2 separate regions of the Homo sapiens genome follow, and region 2 is linked to region 1. Evidence: fine-mapped expression QTL. A gene starts in region 1. The other region holds a variant in brackets. All regions are shown on one strand. Distances are between the middles of the regions. Region 1 holds the start of C7 (complement C7). Region 2 overlaps C7 (complement C7).

Region 1 (8,857 bases):
CCTGTAATCCCAACACTTTGGGAGGCTGAGGCGGGCAAATCATGAGGTCAGGAGATCAAGACCATCCTGACTAACACGGTAAAACCCCATCTCTACTAAAAATACAAAAAATTAACCAGGCATGTTGGCACGCACCTGTAGTCTCAGCTACTTGGGAGGCTGAGGCAGGAGAATCGCTTGAACCCAGGAGGTGGAGATTACAGTGAGCCGAGATCATGCCACTGCACTCCAGCCTGGGTGACAGAGCAAGACTCCATCTTAAAATATATAAATATACAAAATATACATATATATATATTTGCACATGGTGGCACATGCCCAGATAGTGCCAGCTACTCAGGAGGCTGAAGCAGGAGGATCACTTGAGCCCAGGAATTCAAAGGTGCAGTGAGCTATGATTGCACCATTACTCTCCAGCCTGGATAACAGAGCAAGACACCATCTCTCTTTAAAAATGTCAAAAAATAACAGTTGTTGGTAGGAATGCAGAGATAAGTGAGAATAGGGAATAGTATATATTCCCACCAATATATACTATTGGTGGGAATGTAAATTAGTACAACTTCCATAAAAAACAGTATGGAGATTTCTCAAAGAACTAAAAATTGAACTACCATCGGATCCATCAATCCCACTACTGGGTATCTACCCAAAGGAAAAGAAATCATTATATCAGAAAGATACCCGTACTCGTATGTTTATCTCAACACTATTCACAATAGCAAAGATATAGAAGCAACCTAAGTGTCCAACAACAGATGATTGGATAAAGAAAATGCAGTATATACACAATGAAATACTGTTCAATTTTTTAAAAAAGAATGAAACCATGTCTTTTGCAGCAGCATGGATGGAACTAGAGGCCATTATATTAAGTGAAACAACTTAGAAACATAAAATCAAGTACCTCATATTCTCACTTACAAGTAGGAGCTAAATAATGTGTACACATGGACAAAAAGTATGGAATAATAGACATTGGAGACTCAGAAGAGTTGGGGATAGAAAGGGGAAGAGTGATGAGAAATTACTTAATGGGTACAATGTACATTATTTGGAAGATAGATACACTGAAAGCCCAGACTTCAACACTACCCAATATATCCATGTAACAAAATTGCACTTGTACCCCTTAAATGTATACAAATAAAATAACTAAATGAATAAAATTTCCAAAAAAAACCATAAAATTTCAAAAAATCTTGAGTACTTGTTCTTGGCCTTTGACTCTCAGCCAAAATGTGGATAATGAAAATAATTATTTCTAACATTCTGTCACAGGTGTTTTAAAATAATTTCAGCCAGGTTTGGTGGCTCATGCCTGTAATCCTGGCATTTGGGGAGGACAAAGTGGTAGGATCACTTGAGCCCAGGAATTTGAGGCCAGCCTGTTGCAACAAAAAATACAAAAATTAGCCAGGCATGGTGGCGGGCACCTGTAGTCCCAGCTACTCAGAAGACTAAGGTGGGAGGATCACTTGAGCCCAGGATGTAGCAGCTGCAGTGAGCCATAATTGTACCACTACACTCCAGCCAGGGCAACAGAGCAAGATCTTGTCTCAAATTTAAAAGCATTTTTTAAAATAAAGAATTTCAATGAAATTTTAGGAAATATACTTTTTATCATCATGGATGCCTTTGTCATCACCTTCTTCATATACATACTCATTATAACCCATCAAGGTCTGCTTATTACAAGACCAGTTCTGTTCATGTTATACAAAGTGAATCTACTAACCAAAAGCATTTCTTGAAATTTGGCTAGCCTTAGGATAATTACCTTTGGAAAAAATACCTTATAAATGAACAAGAGAGATAGAACAAACACAAATAAATCATGTGAATGACAGTGATAGACATACATCTGAACTGACTCTATAAAAGAATTGCTTGGTTGAAGAAGTATGTGGGGCCGGGCGTGGTGGTTCATGCCTGTAATCCCAGCACTTTGGGAGGCCAAGGCAGGTGGATCATGAGGTCAGGAGTTCAAGACCAGCCTGGCCAATATGGTGAAACCCCATCTTTACTAAAAAAAAAAAAAAAATACAAAAATTAGCAAGGCATGGTGGCGCACGCCTGTAGCCCCAGCTACTCAGGAGGCTGAGGCAGAAGAATCGCTTGAACCCAGGAGGCGGAAGTTGGAGTGAGCAGAGATCGTACCTCTGCACTCCAGCCTGGGCAACAGAGTGAGACTTTGTCTCAAAAAAAAAAAAAAAAGAAAGAAAGAAAAAGTGTGTGGTATTTTTGTTCTGTGTCAATGTAGCTAAGCTGGAACTACATTCCCCTGAATTATCTTCTCCTCTTTATCATCAATGAATGAGCATTAGCTCTACCTCCTTCTTCCAGTATGTCCCAGCTACAATCCTGATTTGAGACATTACTGTGCTTGACCATCACTGTGCTTGGGCACTGTGACGACCATTCCCTAGATTCACAGGCCCCAAGCTCAGCTCTCTCCTGGAGGGACGGAACAAATGGCTGGGCCACAGCCAGCTCCGAGGGAAGTCCCTTGTCCCTGACATCCTTCTCCAACACCTCAGATCCAAGTTATTTCCTATCCAAGAACACAGAGAGAACCAAAGGGAATCCTGTGACTGTCTCTCTGAATTTAGTTCACGTGGGGGCTGTGGGGCCAAAACATTGCTTCCTCTTAAAAAGTCTGACATAGAAACCATTTCTAGCTTCTTGATAGCCCAAGGCTTTCACAAGTGTCCCTTCTTTGTCACATATCACCAAAGCATGTCCTTCAGGTTTACTGTAAAAATATGAATGTCCACTTTCAAATACAGGTAAGAACTCTACATGCGACTTGGAGTGAAATAATTGCTTTAGTGTTACAGTTGTTTTAGAACTTGTCTATCAGGCTTCCCAATTTTTGCTGGAAAGCCCCTATATGTAAAATTTTTAAAAAATTAATTGCTTTATTTGTTGATATTTTGTCAACTAATTAAAGGATAGAAGTATATTTATTATTACAGCAGTAAAATATTATAATAATGATTGTAAACATGTTTTTAAGCACAAAGCAATTATTAAGATTTCTTATTGTAAAATAAAGTAAAAGATTAATAGTTAACACAAATATTAGGAAAAAACATTTTGGCTAGATAACTTTCAGAAGAGCATCATTTTCTTTTCTTGTTTTTTTTTTGTTTTTTTTTTTTTTGAGAGAGAGTCTCACCTTATTGCCCAGGCTGGAGTGCAGTGTCTAGTGTTGCCATCTTTATGCCCATGAGTACCCAATATTTAGCTCCCACTTAAAAATTAAGAACATGGGGTATTTGATTGTCTGTTCCTGCGTTAATTTTCTTAGGATAATGACCTCTATCTGCCTCCATGTTGCTGCAAAGGACATGATTTCATTCTTTTTTATGACTGCCCATCATAACTTTAAACAAATTAACTTTGTTATTTGTGTTTAATTTTAATTATTTAATTTCACAGAAGGCATGGCTTAATCAAGATCCATATCTTGCTCCTCCTCTAACCCCAATAATGAGCGAGCTTGGATTCGGTGCCCCAATGGACAATACAGTGACTATGGAAGCAATCTAGCCACTGACAGATCTGTGAAATTATTCCTACAGTCTTACAATGCAACATTTTTAAAGTTTAAATACCAAAATTTACAATAATAAAATTTGAATAGCAATCTCAACTTATTTTTGCATTCCAGAGATTTAGTCTATGATAGCGATTTCTATCTTTGGTCTTATCTTTTGTTGAATAGCTTTTTGGTTGTGTTTTGTTTTGTTTTTTAATATTTGGCCTTTTTGCATTGGGCCAACATGTATACTTGGTAGACCTTTAGTTTTATTCCATCTACTCATATCTTCTATTCTCACAATGCTGACTCTTTCATCCAGGATTTCAAATTCTCAAGTTCCAAGCCTGCAAATTTGCTTTTCTATTAGCTCTTAGATAAATCGCAGGACCCTACTGCATGGCTCCTAATCCAAACAAGCAAAAAAAAAAAAAAAAAATACACCAGAGGAAAGTTTTTCCCAAGAAATAACAATAGTACTATTGTATTTCTTTATGACTTTATCGGGACTTTCATAAACATTGTCTCCAATTCCTGATTCCCAGACCTCTGGACCTATAATTTCACCACAAGATAAGAAAAAGGAATTCACTTTGGCTGAACTGTTAAATATGTTTAAATAAGGATTTCTAAACATCACCCCCAGGTCTTTTTCTTCTGTATTTTCCTCTGGCCTTCTATTTATTTGATGTCTTTCAGTTAGGTATTACACCTCTTCGTTTAAATTACATTTATATTACCCCCGTTCATTTGAAAAGATAGCTTCATTTACAAAAGTAATGAATTTATTGTCTTACCTTCATGTTTGGGAAAACATTCAGGGCAGAAGAGAGGAGGAAGATTTCCTCTGTAAGGGCCGGGTAAGTTTTCAACAGCAGGAAGAGCCCAGCAGGCTGCCTGCCTCTCTGCCTCTCCCTGCTCTAGATTATCTTGGCACTCATATATAGAGCAAGTGGTCCTGAGATTTAGCTCCTACCCCAACCGGATTCTCCAACGACAGCAAGAGCCTGACCTTGTACTTAATCTGTGCCTTGAAACCAGATGCATCTTATCAATTACACAGCCTTAGCTACAGCCAGCTGGGACTGTTTGGAAGTTATAGATATGTTTCTTAGAAACATATCTATAAATCAGGAAACACAGCAAATGTTCTCAGTTCAATGTTTAAGTGATTTTCAACCAAAGGAGACTCTGTAAGGCAAGGGATGAGCCTCCTTCTTGTTTCAATCTACTAAACTAAGTGGATGTTTTCATGATTCTCTTAAAAGGTGTTATATGCCAGACTTTGAGATTAAATATTTTATGAAAGAAAATATTTAAATGCAGTTCTGTCACTCAAAATCTAAATAGAATGTTCTGGAGTAGAATTTTTCCCCAAAGTACAGCCTAATACAACCCAATAGTCATCCCTTCATGCTTAACTTTCACAGAATAATCAGAAAGAATATCAATTTTTGTAAACATATTTGAGGACATCACTAATTTTCTCAAGAACTTCACTTAATCCTTTGATAATCAGATCACTGTGTTGGAAAGTTCTTCTCAGGGTCATTATCCACATCCATTTTCTCTCCTTTGCTTTTTATCTTGTCTTATTCTACCAGGTCTTTATTTTCCCATAGCTTTGCATTGATTCTAGCAAGTCCCCAACATCACCTTCATACATTTAATAAAATGCTGCTTATTTTGCAAGATTTTAGATTTCCTATTGAAACTGAGCTACAGTTGGCCAGGCGCGGTGGCTCATGCCTGTAATCCCAGCACTTTGGGAGGCCAAGGCGAGCGGACCAAGAGGTCAGGAGTTCGAGACCAGCCTGGACAATACAGTGAAACCCCGTCTCTACTAAAAACACAAAAAAATTAGCCAGGCATGGTAGCATGCACTTGTAGTCCCAGCTACTCAGGAGGCTGAGAGAGAAGAATCACTTGAACCCAGGAGGCGGAGGTTGCAGTGAGCTGAGATCGCACCACTGCACTCCAGCCTGGGAGACAGAGTGAGATTCCATCTCAAAAAAAAAAAAAAAAAAAAAATTGAGCTACAGTTTTATTTGTATTGTTGGACCAAATATTCTAACACTAGCTGCTAGTGCATTATGAGTGAGGTAGAATAAATGTTAAGCGGGAAAGAAAATTTGAGTTAAGAATAATTTTATAAGTAAACATTCCATTAGTGAAGATTTTCTAGCTTTAATGACTTTTTCTTCCTATATCCAAAGCACTGGAATAATAAAGACAACCCCTATCCTCCCCTCATAAATTAATGGTGGTTTCCAGAGACAAAGCTTCCGCATCTTTTGTTCAAAGCTTTAGTGATTTGTGTGGAAGAAATTTTGTCACAGAGACAAAGATCCTGACTCCTGAAAGAAATATTTTTTATTCAGCTCCAACTGCATAAATTCCAGATGCCATAGACTCATCTTAAATTCTCAATATACAATTCCATTTCAGCGGCTCTCTTAGTTTGGGTTCCCCCAGAAGTAGATTCAGAAACAAGAATTCAATTGCAAGTAGTTTGTTTTTGTTTTTGTTTTAAGAGATAATCTTAGAAAGCACCACTGGAAGTGGGAAAGTGAGATTGGGGAGAAAAGAAAGTCAATAAAGGGTGTTTTATCAAGCAAGAGACTCCAGTGGGCAATTTGAGTTCAGTTCTAATGAGGAACTCTGAAAGACATTGCACACGAACTCTGCAATTAAGAGTTAGTCCAGCCAGGTGTGGTGGTTCACACCTGTGATCCCAGCACTTTGGGAGGCTGAGGTGGGTGGATCACTTGAGGTCAGGAGTTCAAGACCAGCCTAGCCATGATGGTGAAGCCCCATCTCTACTAAAAATACAAAAAAAAAAAAAAGCCAGTTATGGTGGTTCATGCCTGTAATCCCAACTACTCAGGAGGCTGAGGCACGAGAATCACCGGAACCCAGGAGGCAGAGGCAGCAGTGAAGTGAGATTGCACCACTGAAGAGACTGCACTGCTGAAGAGCAGCCTGGGTGACAGAGCGAGAGCCTGTCCCCCAAAAAAAAAAAAAAAAAAAGAGTTAGTCCAATTAAGGGGTAAGGAAACCCATCGCTGATGATGAAGGTAGCTTCTGAACCCATTGGCTCTCTGGCACTACCAGCTTGCCCTGGGGGCAAGCTAAGCACACGCCTGCAGCCATAAGTAAAGGTTTTCAAGCAGGGAATTGTAGCATTTGCAATATTTGCAGGTGTTTACCTTTGTCATTTAGAGGCGAGCGATGAAGGAATATGGGTAGGGTACCAACAGCATCTGCTACAGTAGCTTTTTATTTATATATACATGCATGTATTAATTTTTTCATCCTGAATTTGATCAATATTTTCTAAAATGTGTAATATGATAGGCTATCAGCTTTGACAGGTAGAAGCCTTAAGCTATATCCTTCCTTATTTTTGTTCTTTACATGCTATAAAGGACCGTATTAGCCCATTTACAGAATATCCTTAATCTAGAGGATGATTTGGATATATTTATAGTAATTTAGAACTTGAATTGTTCAGCTCAGGTATCCCATAGATCATTCAATTCTGAAAGGGTTACAGAAACTTCCTTTCCCCAATTGCCTTGCACACTCCTACCTTCATATCTGTAACATCACAAGAGCATTTCTTCTGTCTGCAATTTTAATGGAGGAACCATTAGCACAAAGGCTTTAAATGCAGGTGGGAGCAACACTGTGGGAAGTTTTACTGCTAGCATAAGTTGTATGGACTTTATTCACACAATGAGTCACTGAGAATTCACCCACTGGAAGTTTTTAAGAAAGAATCAAAGCAGTGTTTTAGATTGATTGAAACAGTAGCTGTGTGCAGCCTACATAGAATAGGTAAGGAAAGGAAGCAGGAAGCGTGACTTGGAATTTATTTCAGTAGTTTAGACAAGGGGATCAAGGCCTCATTTAAAAAGGGATTGACACAGCTGTCTCTACAAAAAACACAAAAATTAGCTGGGCATGATGGCACATGCCTGTAGTCTCAACTACTCAGAAAGCTGAGGTGGCCCAGAAGGTTGAGGCTGCAGTGAGTTATGAGCAGGTCACTGCACTCCAGCCTGGGTGACAGAGCAATGCCTTGTTTCAAAAACAAAAACAAAAACAGAAACAACAAAAAAAGAAGGGGCTGGGCACGATGGCTCACACCTGTAATCCCAGCACTTTGGGAGGCCGAGGCAGGTGAATCACTGGAGAGGTCAGGATTTCAAGACCAGCCTGGCCAACATGGTGACAACCCCTGGACAACATGGTGGACAACTGTAATTCCAGCTACTTGGGAGGCTGAGGTAGGAGAATCACTTGAACCTGGGAGGCAGAGGTCGCAGTGAGCCAAGATGGCACCACTGCATTCCAGCCTGAGCAACAGAGCAAGACGTTGTCCCAGGAAAAAAAAAAAAAAAAAAGGAAAGACAAAAAAGGCAGAAGAATTCACAGGGTTTAGTGATTAAATATGGTTTCAAGTCTGATTGACTCAGAGAATTGAAAGAATTTAAGAAAAATTTAAAGGAGGAAGAAAATTAGAAGTCAAAAAGGAAGAGATGGTTTTGGAGAGGGGACATTTTTACTTTGGGGAAAGCATCCAACATATAATGGAGGTCTCTTTGGGAAGAGACAGGCTTCACCTATGTCTCTTGGAGGGGGACATGGGTGGAGCTGCTAGCATGGAGGTATCTAACTAAAATCATGGACTTCAGTGAATCTTCTAGAGACTGAACATAATGAACCATAAAACCACAAGAAATGCCCCTGTTCAGGAGTAAGAAGAAAAAAAGTCCCAAAAAGGAGAGGTTACAGAAAAAGAAGAAAAACCAAAACAGTGCAACATCAAGCCAATTCAGGAGAATTTCAAGATGAAGAACCCAGTCAACAATTACTCCCAGCAAATGCCCAGCTTGGATTTGCAAAGCACAGTGCATTGTAAATTAAATGTTCTGAAAGTTCTGTAACAAGTAAAACTTTTTTAACTTTTTCAACCCAGAATTTCTCAAGTTCATGTGACCCCCTGGACTTTTATTTCTAACAAACCCCAAAACTGGTATATGGGCATGCTTTGGCAAATAAATGGTGTCTGAGCCAAAGCTAAATCAGTAGAAGGATAAAGCAGATTTCTGCCAGACTGGGGAAGGGTCAATAAGGGCACAGCCCTCTCCTCATCTCCTGTGACACCAGCTCTTCCCCATTTGCCCTCACCTCCCTTGGCAGCTCTTCAAACACTGTTAACATCCCCAAACCCTAATGAAACTATTACTCCACCGATGATATCAGGAAGCAATTCTGGTTCACCACAGGGAGATATTTGAAAACATT
Region 2 (8,000 bases), 62 kb before region 1:
GCCCGGGTGGTGGAGGTTGCAGTGAACCAAGATTGCGCCGTTGCACTCCAGCCAGCCTGGACAAGCGAGACCTTGTCTCAAAAAAAAAAAAAAAGCACACTTCTCTTTAAAATGGTATTATCCTAAATGCAACGTAGTACCCTGAACTGGACCCTAGAACATAAAAGAGACATTAGTGGTAAAACATGAGGTATTTGAATAAAGTGTATAGTTTAGTCAATAGCATTGTACTAATATTAATTTTTTAGTTTTAACCAAGTTGTGTTATGTAAGATGTTAATATTAAGGAAGATGGGTGAAGGGTGTGTAGAAATTATATCTGTGACTTTGCTGAAATCTAAAATTATTCCAAAATGAAATTTTTTAAAAATGGTATTATCTACATCAGTGCTTCTCAACCAGGGGCAGTTTTGTCCCCCAGGGGACATCTGGAAATCACTAGGGACATCTTTGGTTTTTACAACTGCAGAATGTTATTGACATAGGAGGATGCTACTGTTGGGTAGAGACCAGGGATGCTGCTAAGCACCCTGCAATGCACAGAAGAGGCTCCCATAGCAAAGAATTATTAGACCTAAAATTCCAATAGCGTTGAGGTTGAGAAGCCTTAATCTAGATGTACCAAAACTTAAGGTCAATGATCAAGCCATGTAAATTAGTTCTGCACTGTGGTTAAAAATTTACTTTAGGACAAATCCTGAAATTTTAGATTTTAAAAGTTTGCTTAAACTATTATAATGTCAAGCCGGGCGCAGTGGCTCACGCCTGTAATCCCAGTACTTTGGGAGGCCGAGGCGGGCGGATCATGAGGTCAGGAGATCGGGACCATCCTGACTAACATGGTGAAACCCCGTCTCTGCTAAAAATACAAAAAAAAATTAGCCGGGCATGGTGGCGAGCACCTGTAGTCCCAGCTACTCAGGAGGCTGAGGCAGGAGAATGGTGTGAACCCGGGAGGCAGAACTTGCAGTGAGCTGAGATTGTGCCGCTGCACTCCAGCCTGGGTGACAGAACGAGACTGCATCTCAAAAAAAAAAAATGTATTATAATGTCTTTGTGGAAAAAAAAAAAAACGATAGAATTACCTAGCCCAAAGAATTTTTGCATTTAAGAAGAACATAGCTTTGTTGCCTTTACAGCTTGGTTAACCAAGTAAACACACTCTTAAGGCCCACCGAAAGTATGTGCTTTTGCTATTTTAAAAGCAAATTTATTCCCATCAAGACTAACTACGGGGACAGTAGGGGAAAGTGAGGAATTAATGTTTAATGGATATAGAGCTTCAGTTTGGAAAGATGAAAAAAAATGTGGTGATGGTTGCACAACAATGGGAATTACTTAATGCCACTGAACATACATTTAAAAATGGATAAAATGGTAAATGTTATGTTATGTATGCTTTATTATAATAAAAAAAAAGACTAAATACTAGAACAGCCAACATTTTAAAACATCAACTTTGGAAGCTGGTAAGTCTTGGATTTTTTTGTTTGTTATAGGCTTAGAAGTAGTTACTGTTATTCACATCTTCAGAAAAACACACAGATCTGAAAAACATCCTTAATTAAAACCCACTTTAATAGAATTTTCTACTGGGTAAATGAAACTTCATACCAAACTGTGCTGTAAAATAGCTGAAGTAGCATTTTAGACAGACTAGTCTACAATCTCATTTGAACCAAAAGTGCAACCTCATCAACTGTATATTGTTCTCTTTCATTTTTAGAATTGTAAGTACTGGTCCATGACTTTAAATATTCCAAGTAAACTCATGTTTATACTTCAGTGTTTACAGAACACAAAACAACTGTCCTCTGAGATGGAGCTTTGATAACTTAACAGCACATCAGGACAGGCAGGGAGGGCACTCCAAGGACGTGTGTCTTGCCTATTGTTCTGCCTCTCATCCACTTCACATCACAGCCCATATCTACCATCAGTATCTGAGTGCTCCATACCCTGTCGCATGGAGAACTTAGTTAGAAACATCTAATTCACCTCACACCATCACCTGTGAAATCTAGTACTTCATCCTCACTATTAAAAATAAATTTCAGCGTTTAATTAAAAATCACATACTAGAGAGATAATATCACATAAAATAGTATGCAAGTGAGTTTTTCTTCATTCTCATTTTTGTTACAAATACAATATTTTCCATTTATTTAAAAAATGTAAACAAAGAATAAATAAGGGGTTATTGTCAAACAAATCTATCTCATCTAAAATTACCTCTAAAAAGAAATAATTTGGCTTTCTAAATCCTTTCTACCTTAGGTTCTTAAAAGACCATTTTAATTTTCTTGGTGTTAAAATACTGGATTTTTGGGTTTCCACATTAAGAACAATTTCATGAATCACAACACTTTTCCTTCAATAATGTCTGCTTTAAAGTGTTAAATGAAAATGCTTTCTAAATTTTCAATTTCAGAAATACTGATAAACTCTTTGAAAGCCCAAAAATGAAACATACAGAACTTTAAATAAATTATGATCTCAACTCTGTACTTATGAAAAATGCAGGGGAAAAAAATCTAGAGGAAACAAACAAACAAACAAAAAACAGATTTTAAAAATCCTTTATTGTCTTGGCACCATAACAGATATAAAGCTAATCTTTCACAAGGATGATTTAAGTTAAAAGTTTCAGAATCACCAGGCTATCCTTGCCTTTCCTTGCTTTCATGAGTCTTTCTGTGCCATGTGAAGAAAATCTGTTACTCAGTCTACAAACTGACCCTATCTTAAGGAGCAAGAATGGAGGGAATGACTCACAGCTATGGTGATACAGTACCATGAAGGTCGCCACAAGGACTCTCACTTGCCTGGGTACAAGTGTCCTTGGATAGACATGGAAGCCACTCACCTTTTTGTACACAGCGGGCATTCTTCATCTCAGGACTCCACTTAAGGCTGGAGCCACAGAGAAATGCTGAAGGACCTTCTAAGGACATGCCACCTGAACAGGAAACAGTCACCTTCTCACCAACTGTGTAGAAAGGTTTTTGGGGGTGACTCTGTATGCCATCCATCAGTACAGGTAGAACACAGGCAATTTCTAAAGATAAAAGAGAGCAAAATATAAGGGTCGTTGCTCTCCTAAACCATCTTTTTAAAAAAGTCTTATGTGATGCAGACACACTTGTTCTGCTTTTTCATATTAGAGGACAAGGAGGAAGACGTAAGTTCACTGTTAGGGTGGACTGAAAGACATGTCACACAGAGCCTGGCACGTAATTGACCCATGAATATCTAAAAACCAAAACAGCTCCCCCTCTCCCACCCCTCCCCTCAAAACAATGTGACAACTTAAAATGAACAACCCCAATAGAGTCCTAATGCCCAGCCTAC[T/C]GTTGAAACCAAACTTTTCACAGCTGTCACTTATTTATGTGCTCTAGTGATGTTCCACCAGGAGAGTTTCATTAACTTTCATCCAGTTGGATATTTTGCCGTCTGAAATTATTAAAACACCACTTTTATTTATTTATTTATTTTTATTTTTTAGGGACAGGGTCTGTCTTGTTGCCCAGGCTGGAGAGCAGTGATTATTCATAGGTCTAATCAGTGTATACTACAGCCTCAAATTCCTGGGCTCAGAAAAGCAATGGGGAAAGGATTTCCTGTTTAATAAATGGTGATGGGAAAACCGGCAAGCCATATGCAGAAAACAGAAACTGGACCCCTTCCTTATACCTTATACAAAAATTAACTCAAGATGGATTAAAGACTTAAATGTAAAACCTAAAACCATAAAAACCCTAGAAGAAAACCTATGCAATACCATTCAGGACATAAGCATGGGCAAAGACTTCATGACTAAAACACCAAAAACAATTGCAACAAAAACCAAAATTGACAAATGGGATCTAATTAAACTAAAGAGCTTCTGCTCAGCAAAAGAAACTATCATCAGAGTAAACAGGCAACCTACAGAATGGGAGACAATGTTTGTAATCTATCTATCTGACAAAGGGCTAATATCCAGAATCTACAGGGAACTTAAACAAATTTACAACAGAAAAACAAGCAACCCCATCAAAAAGTGGGCAAAGGATATGAACAGACATTTCTCAAAAGAAGACATTTATGCAGCCAACAAACATATGAAAAAATGCTCATCATCACTGGTCACCAGAGAAATGCAAATCAAAACCACAATGAGATACCATCTCACGCCAGTTAGAATGGTGATCATTAAAAAGTCTGGAAAGAACAGATGCTGGTGGGGATGTGGAGAAATAGGAACGCTTTTACACTATTGGTAGGAGTGTAAACTAGTTCAATCATTGTGGAAGACGGTATGGCAATTCCTCAAGGATCTAGAACCAGAAATACCATTTGACCCAGCAATCCCGTTACTGGGTATATACCCAAAGGGTTATAAATCATTCTACTGTAAAGACACATGCACACGTATGTTTATTGCAGCACTACTTACAATAGCAAAGACTTGGAACCAACCCAAATGCCCATCAATGATAGACTGGATAAAGAAAATATGGCACATATACACCATGGAATACTATAACGGGTTAATGTCCTTTGCAGAGACATGGATGAAGCTGGAAACCATCATCCTCAGCAAACTAACACAGGAACAGAAAATGCATGTTCTCACTCATAAGTGGGAGTTGAACAATGAGAACACATGGGCACAGGGAGTGGAACATCACACACTGTGGCCTGTCAGGGGATGGGGGGCAAGGGGAGGGAAAGCATTAGGAAAAATACCTAATGCATGCGAGGCTTAAAACCTAGATGATGGGTTGATAGATGCAGCAAACTACCATAGCACATATATACCTATGTAACAAACCTGCACATTCAACACATGTATCCCAGAACTTAAAGTAAAATTAAAAAAAAAATTAAAAACTCCTAGGCTCAAGCAATCCTCCTGACTCAACCTCCTGAGTAGGTGGGATCACAGGCACATGCCACCACACCCAGCTAAAGCACCACCTTTAAACTTGCAGACATAAAAGTGTTCAGTGTTCCCTGACTTTTCATCTGTATTCTTTCTTACTCAATTACATTCATTAGCTCAAATAGCTTACTTCAAAAAAGAACAGAGAAAAAGAAAAAACACACATAGTATAAACAGCAAGTCAGAATTCATGATTAAAAAAAAAATCTTGCTAATATCCCTAATGGACTTTGGACAATATTCTACAAAGTATTGCTGTATCTTTACAGCACTGTCATCAGAAAACCCATTCATTCATTTATTCATTCAAAAACAGCATTTGATGGATGCACTGAAAGCTTTGACTTCATCACAATGAGATATATCAGTGTAGCAAAATTGAGCTAATACTCCATGAATATATACAAAAATCCACAGCACTTTTTGAATGCCTATATTTTGCCAAATATGTTGTGCACTGCTTGGGACACAGCAAAGTACAAGTCACATCTTATGCCTTCCAAAACTTCATAATCTAGTATTGAATCTGCTTGTTTCTAATGCGTTTGCTGTTTTCACATTAAATCTCCTACCAAGACAAAAAAAATAGAAAGACTGTACAAAATTAAAAGGAAAACTATTTCTGAAAGAATCAGAGCACTAACAAGGCAGTGCAAGTTTGAAAGTCCAAGATTTCAGAGAGAAGGGAAGTCTAATGTGGTGATTACATTTACATTTGGTAACACATTTTTCCTTGAGGTATTTGTAAATTAAAAAAAAAAAGAAAATATGCTGAAAGGCTGCTAAACTGAAGAGAAAACCATAGCTCAGAGGCTAAAAAGATAAACAGCTTTTAGCAGTCTCACAGGACCAGGGTTTTAAAAACTAGAGTCCAGTCCTGTCAAAAAGAAGGGGCCAGGTAGAAAGCCCATACCTTCAGTTGGAATCCCTTAATGGCCACATCCTTGGAATAGAGATAACCCAGACATAAGCCAGCCTCACTGGTTGCCATAAACAAAAGTTAGTCTTCTCTAGAGGAAGATAGCATCATCCAATTTTTAAATTTTCATACGTAAAGTCTGACATTCAATTAAAACTAATTTAACATTCAAAAAGACAAGAATTGACCAAATTCCAACCAAAAAAAACAATAGAAACAGACTTACAGTAACAGACTTACCTAAAGAATGAAATTAACAGATACAGGCCCTGAAACAACTGAAATTAATATATTTTTTTAAATGACAAGATGGAGAATTACAACAGAGAATTAGAAAATATAAAACAGTAAACATAAATGTTTGAAGTAATTGATGTTATTTACTCTGATTTGCTTATTACACACTGTTTACACATATCAAAACATCGCTTAAAAACTATATTTTAAGTGAAAAATTTTAATATTTTTAAATATAATAATGTAAGAATATAGGCTCATTCATTATAATAAATATACCACATTAATGGAAGATGTTAATACCTAATAGGGAAACTGGGCGGGAAGTAAGGAAGTAGATGGGCGCTCTCTGTACTTTCTAGTCAGTTTTTTGTAAGCTAAAACTGCTCTAAAAATGAAGTTATTAATTTAAAAATTCACTATGCAGTAAAAAAGTAGACAAATGAAACCTCTAAAATTGAAAAATAGCCAGGCACGATGGCTCACACCTATAATCCCAGCACTTTGGGAGACTGAAGCAGGCAGATCACTTGAGCTCAGGAGTTTGAGAACAGCCACGGCAACATGGTGAAACCCCGTCTCTACTAAAAAGTACAAAATTAGCTGGGCACTGTGGCAAGCGTCTATAATCCCAGCTACTCAGGAGGCTGAGGCAGGAGAATTGCTTGAGCCCAGGAGGCAGAGATTACAGTGAGCCAAGATTGCACCACTGCACTTCAGCATGGGTGACAGGAGTAAAATCTGTCTCAAAAAAAAAAAAAAAAAAAAAAAAAAAAATATATATATATATATATATATATATATATATAAAATATATATAATTGTTTTAAGTTGAAAAATAAAATTGATAAAATTTAAAACTCTATAATAGAGTTCTTAAAAGGAGATTATACAGAAATATACAGAGAATTAATAAATTGGAAGATAGGTCAGTTGAAAATATTTAGAATGAGGCCAGGTGCGGTGGCTCATGCCTGTAGTCCCAGCACTTTGGGAGGCCCAGACAGGCAGATTACTTGAGGTCAGGAATTCAAGACCAGCCTGGCCAACATGGCAAAACCTCATCTTTACTAAAAATACAAAAATTAGCCAGATGCAGTGCTGCATGCATGTAATTCCAGCTACTCAGGAGGCTGAGCCAGGAGAATTGTTTGAACCTGGGAAGCGGAGGTTGCAGTGAGCCGAGATCGCACCACTGCACTCCAGCCTGGAAAACAAACCATCTCAAATAAAAAAAAGAAAAAGAAAAAGAAAATATTTAGAATGAAACAGAGGGGGAAAAGATGGAAAACAAACAAAAAAATGATGTTAAAAAATATAATGGTCCAAAAAATGTATAATTTGTGTCCCATAAGGACAAGTGAGGAAGAATGGGACAGAAGCAATGTTTTAGGACATAATGGTCAAGAAATGGTCTAAAACTGACAAAAGACTTAAAGCACAGGTTCAATAAAAGCCCAGAAAAATATAAAGAAAATTATACCTAGACATCAGAGTAAAGTTGCTGGAGAAAACCAAAAGCAAAAAACAATTAATAATACCCTTTTCCCACCCCAGCACTACTGGGCCTGCAGGTCTCTGTCAAGCCACAAACGCAGGTCTCTGTCCCACAGGATGGGGTTTGTTAAAGTTGTTAATAATAAGGCCTACTTTAAAAGATACTAAGTGAAATTTAGAAGATGACAAGAGGGTAAAACTGATCACTATGTTCGGAAATGCTTGGTGATACAGGATAAAAATAAATACAGCACACCCAAATACAGGATGATATTTTATGTAACAAACAGAGTTATCATTTGTCAGATTGCTTAGACCTGTGTAGAAGGGAACGTGATAGTCTGTGCAGTGTATGCACATGAACTGCCAAAATATGGTGTGAAGATTGGAGCCAAGATCACTCCATTGCAATCCAGCCTG

The links.
Region 2: its variant is fine-mapped to the expression of C7 in lung (TOPMed, PIP above 0.99). The same link has a PIP of 0.9 or more in adrenal gland, atrial appendage, esophagus mucosa, esophagus muscle, gastroesophageal junction and left ventricle.

Annotation. Positions count from the first base shown.
Region 1 is chr5:40,905,101-40,913,957 of GRCh38, reverse strand. It overlaps C7 (complement C7), which reads right to left and starts at 4,461. Exons shown (of 18, transcript NM_000587.4): 1 at 4,342-4,461. The coding sequence starts at 4,347. It also overlaps the pseudogene RNU7-161P.
Region 2 is chr5:40,967,461-40,975,460 of GRCh38, reverse strand. It overlaps C7 (complement C7), which reads right to left. Exons shown (of 18, transcript NM_000587.4): 15 at 2,867-3,058. Among named protein-coding and RNA genes, the nearest start is that of C7, 62 kb to the right of the region's middle. The variant T/C (reference allele first, on the strand shown) is at 3,352.